Homo sapiens: one gene and its partners. The protein of the gene in region 4 purifies or fractionates together with the protein of the main gene of each other region. This does not show direct contact. Each region holds a gene or a part of one and is shown on either strand. Other genes may lie near its edges.

Region 1 (6,134 bases), on a different chromosome or scaffold from region 4:
ATAGAGCCAGGAGGGAGACTGAGGTCCCAGGTCCCACCCGCTAATCCTTGGCCTCAAAGACCTCAGACGGTGGTTCCCAAAGCTGCAAGCTGCAGGGCCCTGGGGGAGCTTGCTGAAAACATGGCTAGATCCCCAAGACTCTGCCACACCAGCGAAATCGGAGTCTCTGAAGGAGGGTCCAAGAATATGTTTGTGACACGCTTCCTTGGAGGGTGAGGGTTTAGGCAATATTTGAGAACCTTTGAGTTGGATCAGCTGTTGCAAACACCTAAAGGTATTCTGCGTTCTTGGATTTTAGAGAGATGGCCCCTCCCAAGCGGATGGGTCGTGAGAGCCCATAAATACCTTCTAGCACCTCAATCCCAACAGCTGGTCGATTCCTCCTGAGATTTACCCTAATCTCCCAGATATGCTGATTTGGCCTGTTTCCTGCTGAGAGAAACAGAAACAGCCTGGGACTGCCCCTCCCCAGCCCTCAGTGGTTAGAAAGACAAACAAACCAGAAGGAAAGGACCAGGCAGAAGGGGGACCTCAGGCCCCTTCCAGAACCACCACAAACACACACGCACATACTGGTCAGCGCAAGGCTCTGATGGCAGCAGCTTATCTTCATCTTCTTTGTTAAACAGAGATGACATTGTCAGCCAGCCTTTCACCCCGACCCCCTGAACCTGGGAAAGGGGTTGGGAGTCAGGGAGGGGGTCCAGCACAACCTCCCAGGACTCCACAGAAGCCTCTGCCAGGCTGCCCAGGGTTGGGGTGGAAGAAGGGAGAATACTCACCCGGCGGGCCAGCTGTGACATGGGATTGAAGGTCTCCTCGGTCGGTTCTGCTGTCTCAGACCCCACTAATGCTGGGTTCTCCCTCTGGGACACAAGACCCCCACACAGCATGAGAGAGGCCGCAGAGGAGTGAGATCTCCCTCCTCCACTGCTAGCCTAGTACACACAGACCAGGCACCCCAAATCCCACAGAACTAAACACACACCTATACACTCCACAGATCCACAAGGGCACATGGGAATGCATACAGGTATACCTGCAGAGTAAATCCCTGCAGACACCCTTTTTTTCCTTTGTGTGTGCGTGTGTGTGTGTGATGGAGTCTTGCCGTGGGGTGCAGTGGTGCGATCTCGGCTCACTGCAACCTCTGCCTCCCATGTTCAAGTGATTCTCCTGCCTTAGCCTCCTGAGTATCTGGGCCTACAGGCACCCACCACCGCCCTGCTAATTTTTGTATTTTAAATAGAGATGGGGTTTTGCCATGTTGGCCAGGCTGGTCTCGAACTCCTGGCCTCAAGTGATCCTCCCACCTCGGCCTCCCAAAGTGCTGGGATTACAGGCGTGAGCCGCCAGTCCGAGCTGCAGACACCCTTGAGCACACATACCTGCCCACCACAGACACATCCATATACACCCAAAAGCACGTGGACATGGGCATGCACTCTGATGTAGACACACACCTGTACATGAGCATGCCCCCACATGGCTACAGCTCTTCACCTGTACATAGACATACGTGTTGTGAAGCACCTATACAAGGACACACACAGTTATATCATTCACACCTGTGCACTTATACAACCACAGACAGCTGCACAGAGGCCTATCCACAACACACAAAACCTCTCCACCCAACCACAGATACCAAAACACATACACCATACAAACAACACCTGCAAATGTCTACACAGAGGCATGCAGGCAGACTGCTACCCAAAATGTTCACACCTTCACATACACTTTCACTGGGGATTCCACCCAGATACTGATCACACCAGTTACCCACTGACATTTCTGCACAAGCCCAGCCTTAGACACCAACCTCTCCAGACATTTAAGAATTCAAACCATTCCCCGCCCCTCTGAACCGATTCCTGCCTCTGCCACATTTTGTGTGATTGTGTGACTGCCACTTATCACAGCCTCCAGACATAAGACTGTCCCTGGTTTCAGAAACTTTGCTGTTGTTGTTTTGAGACAAAGTCTCACCTGTCACACAGGCTGTAGTGCAGTGGAGCCTCGACCTCCCTGGGCTCAAGCAATCCACCCGCCTCAGCCTGAGTAGCTGGGACTACAGGTGTGTGCCACCATGCCTGTCTAATTTTGTATTTTTTTGTTGAGATAGGGTTTCACCATGTCACCCAGGCTGGTCTCGAAATCCTGGGCTCAAGTGATCCTCCTGCCTCAGCCCCCTGAGTAGATGGGATTATAGGTGCCCACCACCATGCCCAGCTAATTTTTGTATTTTTAGTAGAGGCAGGGTTTCGCCATGTTAGCCAGGCTGGTCTCGAACTCCTAACCTCAGGTGATCCACCCTCCGTGGCCTTCCAAAGTGCTAGTATTACAGGCAGAAGCCACTGCGCCTGGCCTGTTTGTTTGTTTTTGAGATGGAGTCTTGCTCTGTCGCCCAGGCTGGAGTGCAATGGCTCAATCTCAGCTCATTGCAACCTCTGCCTCCCAGGCTCAAGCAATTCTCCTACCTCAGCCTCCCAAGTGGCTGGGATTACAGGTGCACGCCGCCATGCCTGGCTACTTTTTTTTGTATTTTAATAGAGACTGGGTTTCACCGTGTTGCCCAGGCTGGTCTTGAACTCCTGAGCTCAGGCAATCCACCCACCTCGGCCTCCCAAAGTGCTAGGATTACAGGCATGAGCCACCGTGCCCGGCCCAGCCTGTTTTTTGTTGTTGTTGTTTGTTTGCTTGTTTTTTGTAATGTCAGAACAAAGCATGGTCTAAGTATGGCTTTGATCTGATGCTGCTGCAGTGACCTTTCTAGTACAGGCGCCACTCCCCCTACCTCTAGTAACATGGGGCTCACTACATCACTCCTACTTCTGCTCCCATTAGAAAGTTGTGTCCAGCTAAGTGTGCCCGTGTGCCTACTGCCCACTGGTCCTAGAAGAATCTCTTCCATGTGGCAGCCTCGAGATCTTTGGAGACAGTGGCCACTCCTCCCATGGTCCCTAAGTCTTTTCTTCCTCAGTTTTCTTGAATGTCCTGGCTTTCTGATGCTGCACCATGGTTTTTACCATCCCTGAATGTGGCATCTGCACAAATGTGGCCCCCCCACCTCCAAGCCTATCCTGTGCCCCACTTCATACTGCTCATTCCTGCTGCCCCTCTGCACATGCTCCACCCACCATGCATGGATGGCACCCACCTCCTCTGCCAGGTCTTCTTCAGATTCCCCACTCAGGGTCTGTAGCACTTTGGACTTGTAGGTTTTCCAGAAGGCCTGGTTCATGGCTGCAGGGGGAAGGGGCCTGGCACGCAAGCACAGGAAGGTGGTGGCTCAGTGGATACCAGTGAGTCTGGCTCTAGGAACTTGGTGAGGCCAAGAGCCTGTCCGAGGGATCCAGTGACTTCATTAAAGATGCACCAGCCTCCCCAGCTGGCACAGTGCCCAGGAGGTGAACCTGATCCAAAGGAGTCGGGGAGTGGGGGATGGAACAAGCTTCTGCCACCTTAGCCCCTTGTCTTGACCCATATTGGCCAAGAATAATGAAGTCATTTGTCTCTAGAGAGGCTTTCTTCCTGGGCCTAGGAGTACTTGAGTTGTTCATCTCTTAGCATGCCTCCAGGAAAATCTTCTTCCATTCACAAAATCCTGAGGTCTGGGACCCACACTGGAGCCCCTGTGACTGTAGTCATACTAGTTGTGTCCTCAGCAGGGCTCCACCCTGTGTCCCTACTTAGCCTCAATGAACTGGAGCAGGAAGGTCCGCAGGCCCCCAGTGGGCACCTTGGGCTTACATTTCACTCCTTTGTCTGGGCTGGAAACTGATTCCTCTCCCCAGGGATACACGTGCCTGTCTCCTTGTTTCCTGGCAACAGACTCCAAAGAGCTGGAGCCCCTGAATTATTGCTAAGCTCCTCTGGCCCCTTCCAGCTGAGTTGGCTCTGGCCAGCCTGGGAGGCACCAGGCTCCTGTGAATGGGGAAAGGCCCTCTAGCCACTCTGAGCATGCAACACCTAGGCCTTTGCTGCCAGCCCACCTCTGGGAGCCCAGGGCTTAGAGAAAGGAGGCAAAGATGGAGAGGTCCTTCTATGAGTACTTGTGAGAGGAACTGATCCCTCTGGAGTCTGGATGCCTGAGGACTGCACTCTCTGGGGAGGAACACCCTTCACGGATTTGGTTGGGGTCAGAGAGAGGATGGAGACTCAAGGGAATAACGGGAGCCCGGAGAAGTGAGGGCTTTTTCAGGGACTGGAGATTATCTCGGGAAGCCCTGGTGGGGCTGGGATTCCAAACTTATTCACTCTCAGTCATTTACTAATTTATTCATGACACAGACATTTATCAGTGCTTTCCAGAGATAAAGCATCCCACCCCCACCGCGGAGTCCAAGGTCTGGGAAACAGGAAGGGATGACAGGAGTACAGGTTGGCACTGATACTGGTTGGACCAGGCCAGGAAGAGCAGGGCAGCAAGACGGCCCCGAAACCCCCAGGCGCACGCACCACCCCGCGCCTCCCCAGCGAGGGCCCGCGGGGCCATGCCCTTCAGTGGGCACACTTCTGGGAGCCCGTCCTGAGCTCGGTCACTGACGTCGACGGCCGCCTGGCGGCGCTCGAGCCGCTGGCCGAGAGTGACGTCATCAGAGGCGGTCCGGCCGAGCCTGCCTAGCCCCCCGGCGTGGCCTGACGTAGCTGATCGGCCCGGAAGTGCTCACACGTGTGCTCCCTGCCCTGCTCCTGGCCCCTTGGCCGGCCGGGCTGTTTCTGGCCATGGGTCGCTCCCGCCGGACAGGCGCGCACCGAGCGCACTCTCTAGCCCGGCAGATGAAGGCGAAGCGGCGGCGGCCGGACTTGGATGAGATTCACCGCGAGCTGCGGCCTCAGGGATCCGCACGACCCCAGCCCGACCCAAACGCCGAGTTCGACCCCGACCTGCCAGGGGGCGGTCTGCACCGCTGTCTGGCCTGCGCGTGAGTCCCGGACGAGCCCGGCCTGGGGCGGAGGAGGGTCCGCGGTACCGGCCGGGAGATGTGAAGTTGAAGCCCCAGGCAGCGCAGAGTCTTCTCTCTTGGGACCCGTGGGTCCGCCCGCCTCCCGTTTCTCAGACCCGGATCCTGGCGTCAGGGACAAGCTAGGGCTAGGGAGATAGGTGCACTTGGGAGACTATCACCTCCTCACTCTCCTTCTCACTTCCATTCCTACAGGAGGTACTTCATCGATTCCACCAACCTGAAGACCCACTTCCGATCCAAAGACCACAAGAAAAGGTATGAAGGAGTAAGGAGAGGATTGATGGATGGGTGCTCAGCAGATAGGGCTCTCACCTGGTCAGCTCCCAACTCCTGTTTTTCTTTCTCCCAGGCTGAAGCAGCTGAGCGTCGAGCCCTACAGTCAGGAAGAGGCGGAGAGGGCAGCGGGTATGGGATCCTATGTGCCCCCCAGGCGGCTGGCAGTGCCCACGGAAGTGTCCACTGAGGTCCCTGAGATGGATACCTCTACCTGACATGGCCTGAAGATGCAGGGCAGAGGAATTGCCCATGGACAGTGACGCAAGGACTAGGCTGGGAGGGAGCGTGCCAACCCCTTTTGCCTCTGGGTTTGGGGAGCGGAGGGCCTCTTCTTGGTGCCCTGCCCCAAATAAAGGAACTGGACAAAGAGAACTTGCCTCCAACTCTAACTTCCAGGCCGCTGTCTCAAACTCCTGCCCTGGAAGGGCTTCTCTACTACTTTCTGTACACCAGGCCTAGGGTGTCTACTCCCCACTTGGTCTATCTCTGCCTTCCCTCTGAGGTCCTAGCATCTGAACTGGAGCACCCAGATGGAGGCCTGATGCAGTGTGGGGTGGCGGGAGTGGGATCAGATTACTCTGTCCTGCTTCTGACAGAGACTGATCCCCAGAAAAGAAGGCTTCTGAGATTGCACCCCCCTCCCGAGTCACCTACCCCCAGCATCCAAGTGAGAGTCTCTCTTCTTCGTTACGGGGCCCGTGGCACCCGCCGCTGCCCCACCATCTTCCAGACGGCATAGCAGGAGCCACCCAGGCCGAGGACAGCTAGCACTGTAGCCACAACTCCTGCCAGCAGACTCCGGGGCTCTGCCTTCAGCTCACCAGCTACCTGCATCTGGAGGTGCACAGAGGGTGTGCCTCAGGGGTCAGTTGAGACTGCCAGGAA
Region 2 (6,855 bases), on a different chromosome or scaffold from region 4:
ATATCTGTATACATATTTAATGCTATAATATGCTGCATAGACATGCTTCTAACATAAATCTACCACTTACCAGAAAAGCTGCCACACCAGTTAAAAAAGGTGTGCTTAAAATTGAAAAACTATCTTAAGAAACCAAATTATTTCATAAAATATAAATCAGATAGTAATACAATGAATGCAATTATTCCTCCCACATTCTGCAGTTTTCCCGGCTGTTTATTTTCCTATCTCCAAGTCCCACAGCTACTTTCTCCCAATCTTCTTGCTTCGTCTGCCATTTCAATGCAACAATTTGCATAGCAGATTACTAAGTATACAGAAATCATGTCCTTTAATATGAAGTTTGTTGAAATTTCCTGGCAAAGTTATAAGTAAAACATATAAAAGTGTTTACCATCACAGGATGATCCCGGGCTTCCTCTTACTAATCAAGGTATAAGCTACTTCCAGCCCAGTGATTTCACATCATCTTCAATTCTATTTAAATTATGACTTGAATCATAAGATATATTTCACACCAAAATCTGTATCTTGTTTTTATACTCTTAATACATATGCTTTAATATTCAGAAATAACTTTTCATTTTAGAGCACATACATAAAGAAGTAATTTATCCTAACACTAATGATTTGGCTCCAACATAAAATGGAAAAAAGTTTTGGTCACTTACATACTACCTAGTGATTTGGAGGATATTTTTTTCCTGCAATGAATGAGAACATTCAGCCATAATCAAAGATTCATCAGCTAGTCACATGCTACATAACATTTAGGTCAACAGCGACTGCACACATGATACTGGTCTCAGATGATTATAATGGAGCTGAAAAATTCCTATTGACTTTGTAGCCCTCATAACTTGTAGTGTAACACATTACTCATGTCTGTGGTAATGCTGGTGTAAACAAACCTGGGATGCCAGTCATATACAAGCATAATGCTTACAATGATGTACTGTACATAATACTAGACAATTATAAGTATTCCAGAAAAAAGCAGTTATTATAGGAGATGACAGCTCCATTCATGTTACTGCCCCTGAAAACCTTCCAGTAGGACAAGATGTGGAGGAAGAAAAGAGTGATATTGATGCTCCTGACCCGGTGTAGGCACAATGTGTGTGTCTTAGTTTATAACAACAAAAAAAATTTTTACAGGAAAAAGCTATAGAATAATGTAAGGGAATAAAGAAAATATTTTTATATAGCTATACAACACATTAGCATTTTAAGCTAAGTGTTATTACAAAAGAGTGGGCCGGGTATGGTGGCTCACGCCTGTAATCCCAGCACTTTGGGAGGCCAAGGCCAGGTGGATCACAAGGTCAGGATATCGAGACCATCCTGGCCAACATGGTCAAACCCCATCTCTACTAAAAATACAAAAATTAGCTGGGCGTGGTGGCGCACTCTTGTAGTCCCAGCTACAGGCGCGCACCACCTGGGAAGCTGAGGCAGGAGAATCGCTTGAACTCAAGAGGTGGACGTTGCAGTGAGCTGAGATTGCGCCACTGCACTCCAGCCTGGGTGACAAGAGCAAAACTCTGTCTCAAAAATGAGAGACAGAGAGAATAAACTCCGTCTCAAAAAAAAAAAAAAAAGGTCAAGGAGTTAAAATTAATTTAAAAGTTTATAAAGTTAAAAAAGCACAGTAAGCTAAGGTTATTACCTTATTTTTAATAAACTTAGACTAAGCATACCGCATTTATAAAGTCTACAGTAGTGTACAGTAATACCCTAAATAATATCGTAGGCCTTCACACTCACATACCACTCACTGACTCACTTAATAGCTACCGACAGCCCTGCAAGCTCCATGCGTAAGTGCCCTATTCAGCTGTACCATGTTTTCTTTTACACTATATTTTTACAGTATCTTTTCTGTGTTTAGATACACACCATCCTTTTACAACTGCCTACAGTATTTAGTAGTTATACTGTACAGGTCTGTAGACTAGGAGTAACAGGCTATCCCATACGGCCCAGCTGTGTAGGTTTGTGCAAGTACACTATGATGTTCACACAACCACGAAACGGCCCAACCATTTCTCATAACTATACCAGTTCTTAAGGGGAGCATGGCTGTATTAAGCCACCACCTTTTTTGTTGTTGTTGTGGTCGTTGTTGAGACGGAGTCTCACTCTGTAGCCCAACCTGGAGTGCAGTGGGCGATCTTGGCTCACTGCAACCTCTGCCGCCAGGGCTCAAGCGATTCTCGGGCCTCAGCCTCCCGAATAGCTGGGATTACAGGCGCGTGCCACCACGCCCAGCTAATTTTTTGTATTTTAGTAGAGAAGGGGTTTCACCATGTTGCCCAGGGTGGTCTCGAACTCCTGAGCTCAGGAGATCTGCCCGCCTCGACCTCCCAAAGTGCTGGGATTACAGGCGTGAGCCACCGCGCCCGGCCTAAATTATCACCTTTTAAGACCAGCATCCCTGGCAACCCCCCAAGTCTCAGCTCCTAGTAACAGAAAGACCCCTTCCACAGAAGCTGAAGGGTGGACCCAATGAATTGGTGTGAGAAACTCCATGCCACTTTACCAGCGCACTCTTCGCTGAAGTTTATGCGACTGTCATAGTGGGGACCGAAGCTGTTCAAAAGGAAGTAGATTATCCTTCCCCTACGTACGTGGGAAGGGGGAGGCTCTGGGTTATCAAGAGGGTGAAGTGGGAGAGCCAAGCGGCCCACCCACAGGCGGATTCCAGGGCGGCTGGACGCACAGCCCCCAGCAGCCGGAGCCCAACAGCTGAGGTCGCCGCCCCTAGACAGCCCGCGCTCCAGCCAGCTCAGGGACCCAGCGGCTAAGCCTTCTGTCCTCCCAGCTTCCCACGCAAGTTCCGCCAGGCCAGAGGGAACGAACGACGAGACCCTGCAGCTTTGGTGGCTGAGAACCTCACCTCACCGCGCTACCGCGCAGCTTCTTACCGCGCACGAATCCCCCAGAGCAGCCGAGTTGGCGAGCCGGGGAAGACCGCCCTCCTGCGGTATTGGAGACCGGAAGCACATAGTGCCCGAGAGCGCGTCACTTCCGGCGTCACAGACGGTCTTTACAAGCGACTCGTGGGCGTCAATACTGGGCTGAGTTTGTGGCGCGCTTAGTGATGGGATGGCCCTGTGCAGGACGCCGACACGAAAAGATGAAGAGTTCAATCCGTGCTGTCTGAACTCACAGTGTAGCAGGCGAGATAGACGGGAAGATCGGTAGGGTGGGAGATGCCGGAAAGGCTTCCCGTGAGACTGGATAAGAAATCAAAAATCTGGTGAAATTGCCGGCAAGAGGGAGTTAAGGACATTCCAGGCAGAGGCAAGGTAAAGGCGCGGTGGGAGTGGGTCACTGTGATAAAAGTCTGAAAAGGACATTTGGGGGCTCTCTTGGGTGAGAGGCAGTGCCTCATGTCCCCCCTTCAGTGCTCGTTGAGCATTCAATTAAAATGTTAACACTTTGTAGCCAAACAAGTTCTCTTTTTAAGAGGAAAACCCTGGATTTCCAAACGGCTCATTTTCTGTAGCTTCTTGCAAATGGATACCACCACCAGCTGTGCCTAGTGAAAAAATGCAATTTACCAGGACCACTACTCTCAACAGTTTGCTCAATCCATTTAACCTTTTGAATATTTGTCCACTTCTTTTTATCTCTGTTGGCACCTCCTCCCTTGTCCCATATTGTACCTGTAGTTCTACAACTGGTCTGGGGATTCATTCTGCCCCAACTCCCTGAAATCCATTTTCCGTGTCGTAGGAACGGAACTTTTGAAAATGTAAATCATTACATTTAAAGCAGTACTGCTGTACTGCTTTAAACTCTCCCTTCGCTTCCCATTGTTTTAGGATGAAATTCGAACTCCTTATGAAGTCCCTGCCTACTTCCCTAGCCTCACCTTGCTCAGTCTCTCCTTTGAGCTCCGTGCATAGGATCATTTTTTCAATTTCTCAAATGCCGTGTGTACCTTGCCATCTCCAGGCCTTTACATTTGCTAGTCTCTTTGTATGGTACTCCTTTTCTTCTTCCAGTTACTTTCTACTCACCCTTCAAGGCTTTAAGTATTTTATTCTCAAGAAAGCCTTCCAGCCCCCTACCCCCATACTAGACCAATCCCCTACTGTGTGCTCACGGCAGTCTATACTTTCTTATGACACGGTTCACATTTGTAATTACACAATAATTGTGTAAGTTTATTGTATCCTCATTGCCTGGTACATCCTTGGTGCTCACTGCGTATTTGTTTTTTTGTTTTGTTTTGTTTTGTTTTTTGAGAAGGAGTTTGGCTCTTGTCGCCCAGGCTGGAGTGCAATGGCGCGATCTCGGCTCACTGCAACCTCTGCGTCCCGGGTTCAAGCGATTCTTCTGCCTCAGCCGCCCAAGTAGCTGAGATTACAGGCGCCCGCCACCGCGCCCGGCTAGATTTTGTATTTTTAGTAGTGATGGGATATCGCCATGTTGGCCAGGTTGGTCTCAAACTCCTGAGTTAGGCGATCCGCCCACCTCTTCCCTCCAAAGTGCTGGGATTACAGGCGTGAGCCACCGCGCCTGGCCCTCGTATTTGTTAAGTAAATGAAGAATAAGTACTTTGCGATGTTTGTTTAAAGCAAACTAGAAAGTGGCCCAGTTTTCTTTAAGAGAAGGGATTTTAAAGTCAGTGCTTGTAGGAATGTTGAGATTTGGTATGGTACATATCACAAATACCGTAGTTCATATGGTGGAGAAAGTTTTAAAAGACAACAAACAAACAACAGCAACTTCCAGCTCTTGAAGATAGGGAACTTCCTAAAAGATGTGTGGTAGTGCTGCCCATACTGTAATGATCTCAACCAGCTGGTTTCAGGGTAGTGACATTTCATGAAGAGGTTTTATCTTTGGTAGATGCAAGGTACTTACACATAACATACCACTAGAGGGCGCATTTAACTAAAACTTTTCTTTTTAGTGGTATATTGCATTTTAAACTGTAGGTCGTTCATTCTTGGAAGCAAAGGAACATACCGATTTCTTTTTGTAGCGGTATGTCCAATAAAGATTAGTAGTTGAGCAAATAGGGCGTAGAATAAGTCCTTTGGAATTCGGAGGAAACTATTGCTACTAATAGCTAACTTTACTGAACATTTTATAGGTGCCAGCAGTATGCTTAATGGTTTGCATTCGTTACCTAATTAGTCCACTCAGTATTCTGTGAGGTTGGTACTATTATTTTCTCCATTTTGCAATGAGGGAATAAATTCACAGAGCTGACGTAACTTATCCAAGGTCAGACAGCTAATAAGAGGTAGAGTCAGGATTTGAACCAAGATCTCAATCCAAACCTGTGTGCTCTGCTACTTTGAAATACTGCAGAGGATTGTTTGTCTACTTGATCCACTTTAAAACACTTTACTAAGTTATCCTTGCCCAAATTCGATTTTTTTTTTTTGGAAAGTATTTACTTTTACAGTTCAAGGGATTATGTTTGTATTCAGTTTTCCCATCTACTTATTGAAATACTGTAAATGTATTTTTTATAACAATATTATCAGGAAGGTAAATGTTAAATAAGGAATTCTGGTCGTCTTCTCAATTTTCCTGCTGCTGTTTCTTTTCCAGTCCTCAAATTGCTGATTTATAGCTTGATTCACTGGCAGAGACAGTGGAGTGTGCTTATTCCATATTACCAGGAATTGAAACCACTACCATTAGAATTTTAAATCTTCATTCTTGCCCAGATTCTCTCTGAATATTAGGCGCTTGGCCACCCTAGATGAAGTGACCAATAGGTGATGAGGACTAGAAGTGTCCAAGGCCCAGCCTGGGTGGACCATCCCTCTAACTGACTCACACATTAGAGTGAACAGCCTCCAGGCAGCCAGTTTACCTATAGAGCAATTTGGAACGGAGAACAGTGAATCTGGAAAGGAAGGCTGGGATGAGATTTTGCCAAATTAAAGTGTTTTTAAATGTGAAATTATAGTGTTCAAACTTTATCCATTAGAGCTTAAGCAATGAACAACTGTGGATAGTGTTTTAGATCATACAGGAGATCCCATAAAATAGATCTGGAGAAGAGGATTGTGTGGAAAACTGTACCTAATGCATTCTCCGGGCAGTTATTGAACTTTTTTATAGTATGCAGAAAAATACAGCAGAAGAGAGAGGAAAAAAATTAATGACCCTGCTGTTGGAAATAAAAATAAGATCCAGACCAGTGACATTCTGACATCTTAAAAACCTGTCAGTGATATTTTTAGCTGCTTTAGGATCCTTACAATAAGGCCCATGAGTAATAGGATTGTGAGGGTTTTTTTCTTTATACATAATTTTACAGATATTCTTTAATGGGTGTGTATTACATTTAGAATCATTATTAAAGAGTTATTTTTAATCCATGGGAGTTTTGACACAGCACATGAGAATTTCTAATTATAGACTCATAGAAATACATACCTCTTAAAACCCTATCTTCTTGTTTTACAGATCAATAAATTAAGTTTCAGAGAAGTTAAGTGATTGCCATAGAACACAATGCTAGTGACTGAATTTTGTTAACTAACATGCTTTCATTTGCATTGTTGGTTTTCTCAGTAACAAAATTACAAGCAATACTGCTTTATTTCAGAAGTGAAAGAAAATCTATTGGAAGTGTGGAGCAAGAGAAACCTATTAGTGGAAGTTACTTGAGGTTCCTAGGCAATAAGGAATAGGAATAATATAAAGTTTGTGTTACCCTCTGAAAAAGCTTGAATCTCTTTCATCTTCTTTGCTTAAACGTGATAAAGAATAGTGTTGGAACACTAATCACAAAAATGATGTATCCTTCTGACTCATCTTACCATCTTGTTGTATTTCTCAAATTTGAGTTCCTAATCATGTGTTTCGGTGGTTAGG
Region 3 (7,028 bases), on a different chromosome or scaffold from region 4:
TTATAGCCATCCTCCATCACTTCTTCACCACTACTATAGTCCTCATCTAGTGAACTACCGACATCAGAACCTGAATCATATTCAGAGTCTTCAACAACTCTCTTTGGATTAAAAACATTTTTTTTACGTTTCTTGTTAAAGCCATTTTGTGCTTTCATTGAAAATTTCTGTTTTAGTTTTGTTTTAGTTGCATTTTTAGGGTAATTTTGACTTCTTGAAGAAACTTCTTTTCCATTTGGAACCTCACTTTGTGATACATATTGCATATCTGTATATAAAAGACAAAAACAGTAACTAAATTAGAAATACATAAATATAAAGATAGACTTCAAATAAAAACTTAAAACATTTACCTATTCCTATTGAATACAGAAGAATTCAACGACAATTTATTGTTAAATTTGATACACTTTAAAAATACTTAAGTAGAATTTGAAGTTAAACAATTGTTTCAAAAGCAGGTGATAACTTGTTTTTAAAATGAATTAAATATAAATCTCTGTTTTCTAACAAAGGTCCTGAGAACACAAATGGCAGCTGCGTATCTGTATGATGTCTCAGATATTCCTAGCAGCCCCACTCAACTATGCCAACACTGAAGAATATAGCAGAATGATGCTTACACTACTATAAAGCTTACTAATAAAAAGTGTGTATGTTTCAACTATCCATAATTTTCCAATACTATCTTCAATATTCTAAGTTGCATCGTTACTTAAAAAATTATTCAAATAGGCTGGGCATGGTGGCTCACGCCTGTAATCCCAGCACTTTGGGAGGCCGACGCGGGCAGATCACAAGGTCAGGAGTTCGAGACCAGCCTGACCAACATGGTGAAACCCTGTCTCTACTAAAAATATAAAAATTAGCCAGGCATGGTGGTGCATGCCTGTAATCCCAGCTACTCAGAAGGCTGAGGCAGGAGAATCGCTTGAACCTGGGAGGTGGAGGTTGCAGTTAGCCGAGACTGTGCCACTGCACTCCAGCCTGGGCGACAGAGCAAGACTCCGTCTCAAAAAAAATAAAAAATAAAAAAAATTATTCAAATACAGTATTATCAAAAAGCCCCACTACTTTATCACTGATTATCAGTTTACAGAATTCTAAGATGCCTGTGAATGAAGGTAACACCATTATTTTATGTACCAGTGAGAAAACATGCACCAATCTATAATACAATACTTTATTCAGAAATTTTTACTTACTCAGAAAGCTATTAGACTTACACAGATTATCATACCTTTATTTTTGTGCATTTATAAAAAATAAGCAAAATGAATTGGCTAAAGTATTCCTCAAATGTTTTCACATTCATAACATGGCTCTTCTGACTCATTTTTCAAACTCATATTTGGTGGCTTTCTTTTTGCCACAGAATATCATTTTCTGTGCCATCAACAGTATTGGTAGTATAGCCTTTTAAAACAATTTATTAAAAACAAACAAACAAAAAAACCCAAACCAAAACACCAAAAGCTACCATGCTGGGTTTGCAATTATGAAGAGCTAGTCTACTTGATTCTTCCTTAGGTATGTTACTAAACATGTATGACTCAACTCTTCCTTACCACCTCTCCTCTATCATTTGGTTCCTAGAATTAAGAGTGTTCCAAAATGTGTTCATGCCTATGATACCCTTAAGTTTTTGATGCTAGTGCTTTTGATATCTGTGCAAGTATAGGCTAAGACATCTACATTACAGTAATGACATGATATCACCAATCACAAGATCCATCCTGACAGTTGTTAAAAAGGTTATTTTACACTCAATAAAACATGGCAATTTAAAAGTAGCCTTAACTATTAAGAAAGACTGAACAAATAGAAAAAGATATTTATTGTTTTGTTTTACACTATGATAAAGAACAGGCAGGTCAAAACATTTAAAAACTGGTTGTTAAAGAATGTTTTTACATCATTACTTTCAACATCTTTTGCAATCCCACCCTCTGATTAACAGCTAATAGCTTTTCTTATATACCATTTTCTTATATACTAAAATACAGACTATAATGAGAAGTATGTATTTTCTATGACCCAGAATAATTACCTTGGTCTTCTGCAAACACTTTTAGAGATTCTAAAGCTTCTGTGTACATCCATTCATGTTCCTTGAGTACTTCTCTAAGTTCCTAGAAATAAGTCATTTATCTTTTTGTTAAAAATCTCAAATTAGCAACTTGCAGAAAACGTCTATGCTCTTTTAAAAATAAGTTAATCACCTGAAAACAGAGAATTCACATCTGATTATTTTGCACTTGTTTTTACACTGCTTTACAAATGCTTTCTGTGTAATTTCACCTCCACAAATACACAATAGTCTTCAAAGGAAAGAAAACTTGACATTTTTTTGCATTTCTAATGCTCACTATGAAGTACTGTGAACACTAGAGGATCAAGAAATGTTTTCTCAATTAAAAATGAAATTTCAATATGCAGCTAGGCTTTTACAAACTGCTAACTTCAAAACGTAGTTTCAACAAAGGTAAAGAACCAATATTGCAACAAGATTTTGCATTCAGCTCATCAGAATTTAGTAGATGTACTATCTGAACATATATACTCAAATAAATCAGTGCAAGTGTAAATGTACTCTAAATGCTAAACAAATATGTGCTTCTATATATGATCATGGGATTAAACAGAGGGCCTTTTAGCAACAGGATGCGTGGCATGAGTCTTTTTTTTTAATGACTCTGAAAACATTCTCACTATCTGGGAAGTAGTAGAAAGCTTATAAAATATTAAGACACTGAAATGGAATACTTTTTAAATTCTTGTAAGAAATTTCAAGAATGAGAACATGAAAAAAACTAAGCAGTTACTTGATGGGGGCAGGGTTACAGATGACTTTCTAGATGACTTACATGTTATAAATGAGTTCACAATTTTTATTACGGTTATTTTTTAATGACTTAGGGATACAGTATAGATACTATAGTAAACAAGGTAAATAAACAACATAAATAAACAGTATGAAAATACTTTATAACATTGATAAAAGGAGAACATTTAATTAGAAGAATACAAAACTCACCCTAAGCTTTTATGTGGTTGAACTCTTAACACTATTTTATAATAAAAACACTTAGTACACACTGATTAAATTTTCATACACGACTACTCACCTGTTTATCAAAATTGGGAAATTCCTTTTGCAATTTCAGTACAATACTTTCCTGCTTTTCCCAATTACTGCTAGATTCTGCAGACTCATTTGATTCCTCTCCCTAATGGGGAGAAAAAAAAAAGAAAACAATTTAAGAGATATCAATAACAATGGTCTTAAGGCAATTATCATTGTATTTTGACTTGATCTGAAAATTATCATCATCAGTCAGAAGAATCCAAACTGTTTCTTTTTGTTTCTGTGAACATTGACATATTTATGTCTTTAAGGATGAAAAATATTGCTGACTTAAGATCACTGAAAGACCCTGATTGCATATCCGGTAACTCAAACTTTATTCTCAGTGCTTAAAATGAGATAAATCTCCTAAAAAACTAGAATGATCCTCAAATTAACTCAATATAATTCAAGTATACTGATGCCTTCTCCAAGACAACGGTAAATTTTAAAAGGATACAAATATCTCATCTATGTTCACTATTATATATCCACCTATAAATTTCAAATTCTGAGAAGAGTTTACTTTTACTTCACTCTTGATTCACAGAATGGCTTAAATATTAATTGTTCAGTCACAACATAAAACTGAAACAATGATAAAAGGAATTTAAGTGGAACTAAATAATGTATAAACCGAACAGATTAATTAATATGAGAATTGTGGCTATACATAGTCTCACTTTTCCTTCTTCTCTGTCACTTAACTTCACTTGAAGAAACTGGTTAAAGTCCACATTTAAGCAAAAAGAAAAGACTCCTTGTGTTCATGCATAGGAAAAATTTTAGTCAATCAAAAAGCATTTTTCTACTCTGCTTAGAACTGCACCACATGCTATACACACAAGATGGAGAAAAATACAATCTTCTTCTTCAACCTCCTTTATTATCCAACAACTGAATTGCTATTTTTCTCTTTCAGTACCTTAGATAGAAATAACTAAATTCTGATACCTCCTCTGCACAATGGAGTAAAATAAAATTTCATAAAACAGAGACCAATAAAATGCTATGGATATCTGGACTAAAGAAGAAAATTGCATGTGTTTCATAATACTAAGTGGTCTACTTGGGCTCAAATGCAGAGAATGTTAATAGGTTACAAGGATGAAGAATTAAACCAGAGCTAACATGGAATAAAGCCTAAGGTTAGTCTTTTTTAAGAAGCAACAGGATTTTGAGCAGGGGAATAATAAGACATACTGGTGAAACCCATCTGGAGAAACCATTTCAAAATCTTCAAAATTCATACTGCCACCTTTACAGCCCAGGCACACTGAAATTCCAAGAACAGTATTTTAAAGCTCACAGATGGACAACAACCAGCTGAGGAGGGAACAGATCCAAGTATCTAACTCTAGACCACTGCTTTTTCACTACATAAGTGAAAACTAAACTTCAGTTGTTCATTTGTTAATATATCAAATGTGCGTCATGGACAAATTGTGGTAAACACATAAAATGGAATATCACTAAGTCATAAAAAAGAATGAAGTACTGATACACACCACAACATGAATGAACATTGTAGTATATCTGAAAGCATTATGCTATGTAAGAGGCTAATAAAAAAGAACAAAATCATGTTCTTCGCAGCAACACAGATGTAGCTGGAAACCATTTCCTAAGCAAGCTAATGTGGAATCAGAAAAATCAAATACCACATTTCCCACTTATAAATGGGAGCTAAACATTGGGTACACGTGTTCATAAAAATGAGAACAACAGACACTGGGGAACACAAGAAGGCGGAGGGAGGATGTGGGGGAAGAGTTAAGGAAAACTACCTATGGAGTACTATCCTTACTATCTGGGTGACAGATTCATTCATACTTCAAACTTCAGCATCACGCAATATACGTTTGTAACAAACTTGCACATGTACCCCAATTCTAACATAAAGTTGAAAAAAGAAAAAACAAATAAAACACATTTTTCTGAAATTAAAAAATAAGAGGCTAGACATAAAAGGTTACATATTATATAATTCCACCTAAATGAAATGTTCAGAATAGGTAAATCCAGAGACTGAAGGCAGATTGGCGGTTGCCAGGGGTTAGGGGGAGGAGGGAATGGGGAGAAACTGCTTAATGGGTATAGCATGCTATTACGAGGTGATGACAGCGTTTGGAACTAGACAGGAATGATGGTATACAACACTGTGAATGTACTAAATAGCATTAAATAGTTCACTCTAAAATGGTTAATTTTATGCTATGTGAATTTCACCTCAATAAAAAAATACATAAAATATCTGGAAAACAGTAAACAGCTCTTCGGAATCAAATATTTAGTAGATGGTGTGCCTATCATGTGTTGTTTGCTCTTGGGTCCCACACTTATGCCAGCTCTGCTTATCCCTGGTGACTGAATATACTCATGTGGTCCAGGAGGTTACACAGACACTTTACAAAAGCTAGCTGATAAAATTTGGGACTGTATCTGTCTCAGCGGGCCCAAGGGATATGATTCGACCCAGTGCTTATTTTTCCATCTCCAGAATCATAGTTGGAACAGACATATTTGGCACTGGCAGAAATCCCATACTATATCAGTTCCCTGACCCATGATGTATGGGCTACTATTATAGGAAACACCAAATCCAAGTCCCTAGAATTGTCCCTCTCAATCAAAACAATAAGCAATTACTACAGTCCTAAAGGAACTGCAGATATTGACACCACCATCCCATCCCAATGTAAGATGCCTCCTTGACCTATACAAAAAGTAGATGAGTCTTGCAAGTATTTAAGAGTATCATAAACAATCAAACTCCAGCTGCAGCTGCTTTACAGGATGTGGTATTTTTGCTGGAGCAAATCAATATGGCTATGCAGTTATCAATCAAGTACTTGCTTTTTCCCCTTTCCCAATTAGATCAAACAGAAACAATCCGTTTTTATCTTGGCAGGTTTAATGATATACCTTCAGTCTTCAGAGTTAGAGTAACTTTCCTGGCTCTCTCAAATAATACAGTACTCATGGACTTAGATGGTTTTGCACAGTCTAGAGAGTATCACTTGATCCACTATACTGACATCATGTTGACTGGACTTGATACAGGTAGTGGGTATTTTCAATGGTACTGGTCAGATACGTACATGCCACATATCAGGGTGAAGGAATAACCATCCTCACTCTGAGGCCCACCACTTTCGTGGGAGTGTAGTCTGGAGCATGTTGCAAACTCCACTCTTAAGAAAAAAGAAAGGCCGCACCTATCTGCCTCTTTAGACTGGACATTGGGAGCTCACTGCACACTGGAGGCAAGATATACTTCATTAGGGTGTGTACTGCTTGATTCATTTTATAAAATACCTCTTAAGATTGTCAGTTATGGCTGGGCACGCTGGCTCACGCTTGTAATCCCAGCACTCTGGGAGGCTGAGGCGGGTGGATCACGAGGTCAGGAGTTTGAGACCAGCCTGGCCAACACAGTGAAACACCGTTTCTACTAAAAATACAAAAAATTAGCCAGGCGTGGTGGCAGGCACCTGTAATCCCAGCTACTCGGGAGGCTGAGGTGGGAGAATTGCTTGAACCCGGGAGGCGGAGGTTGCGGTGAGCCAGGATCATGCCATTGCACTCCAGCCCAGACAACAGTGCGAGACTCCATCTCAAAAGAAAAAAAAAAAAAAAAGAATGTCAGTTATGAATGGGGCCCAGGTTAAGAGACGGCTCTGTACCAGGTCCAGAGTGCAATACAAGGTACTCCGCCACTTGGGTTTCGTGACCAGCAGATGCAATGATTCTCCAAGAATCTGTTGCAGGTAAGGATGTTGTATGAAGTCTTTGGCAAGCCCCAGTGGGAAAATCGTTTTAGAGAGTTTTAAAGAAAGGTCATCATGTCCTCTTCTACTGACCACAGTCAGTTTTGCTGTGACACATATATTTCCAAAAA
Region 4 (7,381 bases):
GTCAGGAGTTCGAGACCAGCCTGGCCAACATGGTGAAACCCCGTCTCTACTAAAAATACAAAAATTAGCCGTGCATGCTGGCGGGCGCCTGTAATCCCAGCTACTTGGGAAACTGAGTCAAGATGATTACTTGAAACCGGAAGGCAAAGGTTGCAGTGAGCCAAGATTGCACTACTACACTCCAGCCTGGGTGGAAGAGCAAAACTCCGTCTCAAAAAAAAAAAAGAAAAGAAACATAAGTCCCAAGGCTCAGTGTACAGTGTGCACAGGCCCTAAGATCTTCTTAGACACAAAGTGTAAAAGCAAGACAGGCTGGGCGCGGTGGCTTACACCTGCAATCCCAGCACTTTGGAAGGCCAAGGCAGGCGGATCACCTGAGGTCAGGAGTTCGAGACCAGCTTGACCAATATGGAGAAACCCTGTCTCTACTAAAAATTAGCCGGGTGTGATCGTGGGCACCTGTAGTCCCACCTACTCCAGAGGCTGAGACAGGAGAATTGCTTGAAACCGGGAGCAAGAGGTTACAGTGAGCTGAGATCGTGCCACTGCACTCCTGCCTGGGCAACAGAGCAAGACTCCGTCTCACACACACACAAAAGAGTGTAAGGCAAGATATGGAAACCTATGAGGTATGAGCTAGCAGTGACTGGGTCAAAAGGCCCTCTAAGCCAATGGTTCTCAAACTCCACTGTGATCAGAATCATTGGGAGGATTTACTGAAACAGAATGCCAGGCCCTAGTGCCCGCTTTGGATTCAGCAGGTCTGGGGTAGGGTCCAAGAATGTGCATTTCTAACAAGTTTCCAAATAATGCTGCTTCTGGTCTGAGACCACGCTTTGAGAACCACTGCTGTTAGCATTGTTAAAGACCTTGGACTGTATTTTACCCAATGGTTTTCTTTTCTTTTTTTTTTTCCCCCAAGATGGAGTCTCACTGTGGCACCCAGGCTGGAGTACACTGGCATGATCTCGGCTCACTGTAACTTCCACCTCCCAGGATCAAGCAATTCTCCCTGCCTCAGCCTCCTGAGTAGCTGGAATTACAGGCGCCCACCATAGTGCCCGGCTAATTTTTGTATTTTTTTAGTAGAGACGGGGTTTCACGATGTTGGTCAGGCTGGTCTTGAACTCCGGACCTCAAGTGATCTACCCACCTCGGCCTCCCAAAGTGCTGGGATTACAGGCATGAGCCACCAGCCGGCCGGTTTTCAAACCTAGATGCACATCTGAATCAGCTGAGGCTATTTAAAAAATGGAAGTTCCTAAACATTCACACGAGTGAATGAATAGCTCTGGGATGGGGTCCTGGAACCTGCGTTTTTACCAAGTTCCCCAAGTGATTTAGATATAACCAATGGCCATTTAACAACCTTGGCAAAAATTAACTGAAAAGTTTTAAGCAAGGAAATATCATGGTCAGATCTGAATCTTGGACAGCTATCCCTGGTCTTGAAGAATCTGGCTCTGAAATTCCAGCCCAGACAGCTCCATCTTCTACTATGGGTGGATCTGGGACCCTTCTACCTGAATGGGGTTAAGCAGAGCCTTGTTGGATTCTGAGGAGATTGCAGTATGTCCTTCGCTGATAAGGGTCATCCTGCCGTAAGAGCAGAAAGAGGCCCCTGCATCCCAGGCAGCTGTTCCCCATGAGCTCCCTTCAACCAAAACCCAGAAAACTCTGAGAAGTTTAGGATCTCTTTGGTCCAACTCAAAGGTGGCTAGAGGCAGAGATCCTGGAAAGGAGGCAGAGGGTAGCACCTGTTAAAAGCTCACTGATTCTGGCTGGCTGCAATGGCTCACGCCAGTAACCCCTGCATTTTGGGAGGCCAAGGCAGGAGGATCGCTTGAGGCCAGAAGTTCAAGACCGAACTGAGCAAGACAATGTTTCTACAAAAAAAAAAAAAAAAAAAAAAGACGAAGAATAAGCCCACTGATTCATTCACACAGTGGAAAACTGCAGCTTGCAGACTGACATAGGAATCTCTGTGTGGTGGACCGGCCCCACACCACCAGACACAAGAGGCTGGGAAGATGAATATACTAAATACGCGGCACCCACCCCTAGCCCAACCAAAACTCTGGACAGAGCCGTTAGAGGTAGAACGTTATAGGAGGGCTGCAGGCTCTGCGTGGTTATTTAGCACTCACTTCTCTGGACTGTTAGCCCTCTCGGGTACTCCTGCGGATCTAGAGCAGCCGGTTCCCAGTCATCGGTGTTTCGTTCCAACCAGGAGATGAGGGCTGGTTTGGGACCTGCGCACCCTGGGGAAAGAGAACAAATCAGAAGGCCAGCTCCTAGATCACGCCGAGTAGTATCTCCCCGACGGCACCTCCTGCTAAGCCCCTGCCCACCTCCCCTGACAACCTGGTCGCCTGCCAGGACCGTGGCCTCCCTGCCTACACCCTCTCCGGCTCCTGCATCCCTTCGCGCCCCGCGGCAGCGGATGGGGCCGGCCTCACCGAGCGCGCCCAGGTGACCGTAGGTCTCCCGCATCACGTCCCGGTACAGGGCCCTCTGCGCGGGCCGCAGGCAGCCCCACTCCTCCGGGGAGAAGTACACGGCCACGTCCACGAACTTCAGAGCCCTCGGCCTCCTGCCCCTTTTCCGACTGGGTCTGGCCTTTCCTGGTCCCTGCGCAGGGAGCGGAGCCGAAGGTGGCGCCATGGGACCCGAGAAGCCGGCGCCACGGCCTTCCGTGTCCAGGCCTCGGCCCTCGGGCGCTGGCGGCCCCTGGGATCGAGGAGCCCCTGCCGGACCAGGGCTGAGCGTGGCCGGGGAGGCCCGGAGGGAATCGGAATTGGTCGCCCGCGGGGCTAACGGAAACCTTTTGCTGTTATTCAGGAAACTCCTGCCCGAACTTGGGTGAAAGGCACCGGAAGATGCCTTCGGGGAAAATGGCGGCGCTGCTACCGCACCGCCTTTGCCTGGAACACAGGCAGCTTCCAGCTATCGATTTTATTGACCGGAGCGCCATGCCGGCTTCCTAACCTCTTTGCCCTCAAGTGTAATGGCGCTGCGATTGGGCTTCACGCCGTCTTTTTTCCCCTCCCCAATACGCGCGTTCATTGGACGAGAGCCGAAGATCGAGCGTTCTGATTGGGTGCTAGCAAAGGCGGTCCGTTTGAACGAAGCCAAGAGCTGCATAAGGGCAGGAAGCTGGACTGCTAGGATCAGGCGACTACAAGGAGTTGTGAAGCGACTTGCACCGACCTGGGGGCAGCAAGAGGCCCCGGGGCTGCTTTCCGCTGTTCGACTCTGGCAGGCTCAGCCAATCACTGAAGGAGGGAACGATTTGAGCGATGGAGCCACTCTGGCCGAGTTAGAGCTGAGATTATCCTGAGTTCCTTTTACTGGTGTTCTCAGAGCATCCTTGACTTTGGAGAATGGTTATCTTCTTTGTTTGCCCTTTAGGGGAGGGAATTATGGTTAGCATTTCCTGGGGGCAGGCGCCATGCCCAGCATATTACATATTTCATCTTTATTATTTTTTATTTTTATTTTATTTATTTATTTTTGAGACAGAGTCGTGCTCTGTCGCCCAGGCTGGAGTGCAGTGGCGAAATCTCGGCTCACTGCAGCTTCCACCTCCCACGTTCAAGCGATTCTCCTGCCTCAGCCTCCCGAGTAAGTGAGATTACAGGCGCGTGCCACCACTCCTGACTAATATTCATATTTATTAGCAGAGATGGGGTTTCACCATGTTAGCCAGGCTGGTCTCGAACTTCTGACCTCAAGTGATTCACCCACCTCGGCCCCACGAAGTGCTAGGATTACAGGCGTGAGCCACTATGCCCGGCCTTATTTTTATTTTTTTGAGACAGGGTCTCACTCTGTTACCCGGGCGGGATGGAATGCAGTAGTGCAATCTCAGCTCACTGCAGCCTCTAACTCCTGGGCTCAAGCAATCGTCCTGCCTCAGCCTTCAGAGTAACTGGGACTACTGGTGTGCACTACCACGCCTGGCTAATTTTTTATGTTATTTGTTGAGTCAGGGTTTCCCTGTGTTGCCCAGGCTGGTCTCGAACCCTTAGGCTAAGTGATCCTCCTGCCTCGTCCTCCCAAAGGGCTGGGATTACTGGCATAAGCCACAGCACCGGAGCCATTAGTTATTCGCTTTTTTTTTTTGAGACTGGGTCTCATTCCGTTGCCCAGGCTGGAGTGAAGGCATGCACCCACAGTGCTCTGCTAATTTTTTGTATTTTTGGTAGAGACGGTGTTTCGCCATGTTTCCCAGGCTGGTCTCGAACTCCTGAGCTCAAGCAATCCGCCCACCTCGGTCTCCCAAAGTGCTGGGATTACAGGAGTGAGCCACCACACCCAGCCCGTTATTAATTCTTTACTAGCATTTTGTGAACCAATGGTTATCATCCTGGTTCTACTAATGAAGAAACGATCTCAGAGGGATTCCATGAGTTTCCAGGGCCATACTGCTAGTAAGGAGTGGGGAATAAAGATTTAAACCTGGGGCAGACAGAGCCTTTATTCATACCACTGATAGGCATCCTTCCTTCACAGTATCCTAATTTGCTTGCTAAACCAGGAATCCACCTGAGCTCTTGTTTTCTTCTCAAGTTCAATATTCTGCATAATCTCCCTACATTATTTTCACGTGACATTTGTTCAACGTACAAAGCATAGTGCTAGGCAATTGGGAGAGCGTACATAAATAAGTCATAGGCCATGCTTTGAATGGAGCTTACAGTCTAGTAAAGCATATAAATTCACAATGAATCATAACAGAATGATACAAGCATGTATGTGAAAGGCACTGAACTGAAAATTGCTGATGGAACAAGCCAGCACCCACCCCATTAGCCTCCACATTTTTTTTTTTTTTTTTTTTTTGAGACGGAGTCTCGCTCTGTCACCCAGGCTGGAGGGCAGTGGCGCCATCTCGGCTCACTGCAAGCTCCGCCTCCCGGGCTCACGCCATTCTCCTGCCTCAGCCTCCCGGGTAGCTGGGACTACAGGCGCCCGCCACCACGCCCAGCTAATTTTTTGTATTTTTAGTAGAGACGGGGTTTCACCATGTTAGCCAGGATGGTCTTGATCTCCTGACCTCGTGATCCACCCGTCTCAGCCTCCCAAAGTGCTGGGATTACAGGCGTGAGCCACTGTGCCCAGCCCTTTTTTTTTTTTTTTTTAGACGGAGTCTTGCTCTGTTGCCCAGGCTAGAGTGCAGTGGTGCAAACTCGGCTCACTGCAACCTTGGCCTCCCGGGTTCAAGTGATTCTCCTGCCTCAGCCTCCCGAGTAGCTGAGATTACAGGCACCCGCCACTTTGCTCGGCTAATTTTTGTATTTTTAGTAGAGACGGGATTTCACCATCTTGGCCAGGCTGGTCTCGAACTCCTGACCTCATGATCCAACCACCTCTGCCTCCCAAAGTGCTGGGATTACAGGCATGAGCCACCACGCCCGCCCTAGCCCCTACTTCTATGTATGTGTTATACTGCAGAGTTTCACCAGCTCAATGCCACCCCCAAGGGTCCTGCGAGCAGGAGAATACACCATTTGCCATGTCTCTTAGCTAGTGACATGCACATCTATCTCTCTAACCCTTTAATCAATATTGTAAAGCATATACTATGGGCAAAACACTAACCTCAAAGCTTTCAAGGAATAAAGACAAACAATGTGGCAGGAAAAGTCACAAAATTAGAAGGCAATGAGGCCGGGAGCAGTGGCTCACACCTGTAATCCCAGCAGTTTGGGAGGCCGAGGTGGGTGGATCACGTGAGGCCAGGAGTTCAAGACCAGCCTGGCCAACATGGCAAAACCCTGTCTCTACTAAAAATACAAAAATTAGCCGGGCTTGGTGGCACATGCCTATAGTCCCTGCTACTTGGGAGGCTGAGGCATGAGAATTGTTTTCTGTTTTGTTTTGTTTTGTTTTGTTTTGAGACGGAGTTTTGCTCTTGTTCCCCAGGCTGAGTGCAATGGAGCAATCTCGGCTCACCACAACCTCCGCCTCCCGGATTCAAACGATTCTCCTGCCTCAGCCTCCCGAGTAGCTGGGATTACAGGCATGCGCCACTACACCCAGCTAATTTTGTATTTTTAGTAGAGATGGGGTTTCTTCATGTTGGTCAGGCTGGTCTTGAACTCCTGACCTCAGCTGATCTGTCCGCCTCGACCTCCCAAAGTGCTGGGATTACAGACATGAGCCACCAGGCCCAGCCGAAGAGAATTGTTTGAAACTGGAAGGCGGAGGTTGCAGTGATCCAAGATGGTGCCACTGCACTCCAGCCTGGGTGACAGAGTAAGACTAAGTCTCAAAAAAAAAAAAAAAAAAAAAGGCTGGGCTTGGTGGCTCACGCCTGTAATCCCAGCACTTTGGGAGGCCGAGGCGGGCAGATCACTAGGTCAGGAGATCAAGACCATCCTGGCTAACACGGTGAAACCCCGTCTCTACTAAAAATATAAAAAATTAGCCAGGCATGGTGGTGGGCTTCTGTAGTCCCAGCTACTCAGGAGGCTGAGGCAGGAGAATGGCGTGAACCCGGGAGGCGGAGCTTTCGACCGAGCGAGACTCGTCTCAAAAAAAAAAAAAAAAAAGAGGAAGGAGAAGAAAGAAGAAGGAGGAGGAGGATGAGGAGGCAGCAGTGAGATATTCAGAGGAAGGAGATGTTTGAACAGAGGTGGTGGAAAAAAAACTACAGTTACAGGCTAGGTGTGGTGGCTCACACCTATAATCCCAGCACTTTGGGAGGCCGAGGTGGGGGGATTGCTTGAGCCCAGGAGTTCAAGACCAGCCTGGCCACCATGGCAAAACCCTTTCTCTACAAAAAATACAAAAATTAACTAGGCATGGTGTCGGGCACTTATAGTCCCAGCTACTTGGGAAGCTGAGGTGGGGGGATCGATTGAGACTTGGGAGGTCAAGGCTACAGTAGCCAAGATTGCACCACTGCACTCCAGCCTGGGCGAAAGAATGAGATCCTGTCTCAAAAAACAAAAACAACAACAACAACAAAAAAAAAAGGCGGGAGCTCTAGCCTCCTAATTGTGGCTGGGCGTGTGGGCATGGTGGCTCATGCCTGTAGTCCCAGCCCTTTGGGAGGCTAAGGCGAGAGGATGACTTGAGCCCAAGAGTTCAAGGCTGCAGTTAACTATGATTATTACACCACTGCGCTCCAGCGTGGTCAACAGATTGAGACTCTGTGTTTAAATGAATAGAACAAAAACAAACAAACAAACAAAAAACCTGGGCTGCATGAATCTGTTAAGAAAAGTCAGGTCAGCTGGGCGTGGTGGCTCACACCTGTAATCCATCCCAGCACTTCAGGAGGCTGAGGCGGGTGGATTGCCTGAGGTCAGGAGTTCAAGACCAGCCTGACCCACATGGTGAAACCCTGTCTCTACTAAATACAAAAAATTAG

Evidence for each region.
Region 1: the proteins of ZNF689 (region 4) and ZNF593 purify together in Homo sapiens (co-immunoprecipitation; 2 studies listed by BioGRID and IntAct, with this or other methods). This does not show direct contact.
Region 2: the proteins of ZNF689 (region 4) and ZCCHC9 purify together in Homo sapiens (co-immunoprecipitation; 2 studies listed by BioGRID and IntAct, with this or other methods). This does not show direct contact.
Region 3: the proteins of ZNF689 (region 4) and SMARCAD1 purify together in Homo sapiens (affinity purification with mass spectrometry; 2 studies listed by BioGRID and IntAct, with this or other methods). This does not show direct contact.

What each region holds. Positions count from the first base shown.
Region 1 is NC_000001.11:26,165,253-26,171,386, forward strand, and holds ZNF593 (zinc finger protein 593), read left to right. Parts: upstream 1-4,655; 5' UTR 4,656-4,731; coding exon 4,732-4,931; exon of another isoform or gene 4,932-5,165; coding exon 5,166-5,228; exon of another isoform or gene 5,229-5,322; coding exon 5,323-5,464; 3' UTR 5,465-5,621; downstream 5,622-6,134. Other genes in the region: uncharacterized protein C1orf232, read right to left, coding at 574-671, 783-866, 3,164-3,247; transmembrane protein ZNF593OS, read right to left, coding at 5,937-6,083. UniProt on the Homo sapiens protein: Involved in pre-60S ribosomal particles maturation by promoting the nuclear export of the 60S ribosome. Negatively modulates the DNA binding activity of Oct-2 and therefore its transcriptional regulatory activity.
Region 2 is NC_000005.10:81,297,743-81,304,597, reverse strand, and holds the start of ZCCHC9 (zinc finger CCHC domain-containing protein 9), read right to left. Parts: upstream 3,012-6,855; 5' UTR 2,900-3,011; exon of another isoform or gene 2,543-2,899; intron 1,389-2,542; exon of another isoform or gene 395-1,388; intron 1-394. UniProt on the Homo sapiens protein: May down-regulate transcription mediated by NF-kappa-B and the serum response element.
Region 3 is NC_000004.12:94,245,856-94,252,883, reverse strand, and holds part of SMARCAD1 (SWI/SNF-related matrix-associated actin-dependent regulator of chromatin subfamily A containing DEAD/H box 1), read right to left. Parts: exon of another isoform or gene 4,331-7,028; intron 3,231-4,330; coding exon 3,129-3,230; intron 2,223-3,128; exon of another isoform or gene 2,133-2,222; coding exon 2,051-2,132; intron 269-2,050; coding exon 1-268. UniProt on the Homo sapiens protein: DNA helicase that possesses intrinsic ATP-dependent nucleosome-remodeling activity and is both required for DNA repair and heterochromatin organization.
Region 4 is NC_000016.10:30,607,378-30,614,758, forward strand, and holds the start of ZNF689 (zinc finger protein 689), read right to left. Parts: upstream 3,013-7,381; 5' UTR 2,665-3,012; coding exon 2,460-2,664; intron 2,452-2,459; exon of another isoform or gene 2,365-2,451; intron 2,262-2,364; coding exon 2,148-2,261; intron 1-2,147. UniProt on the Homo sapiens protein: May be involved in transcriptional regulation.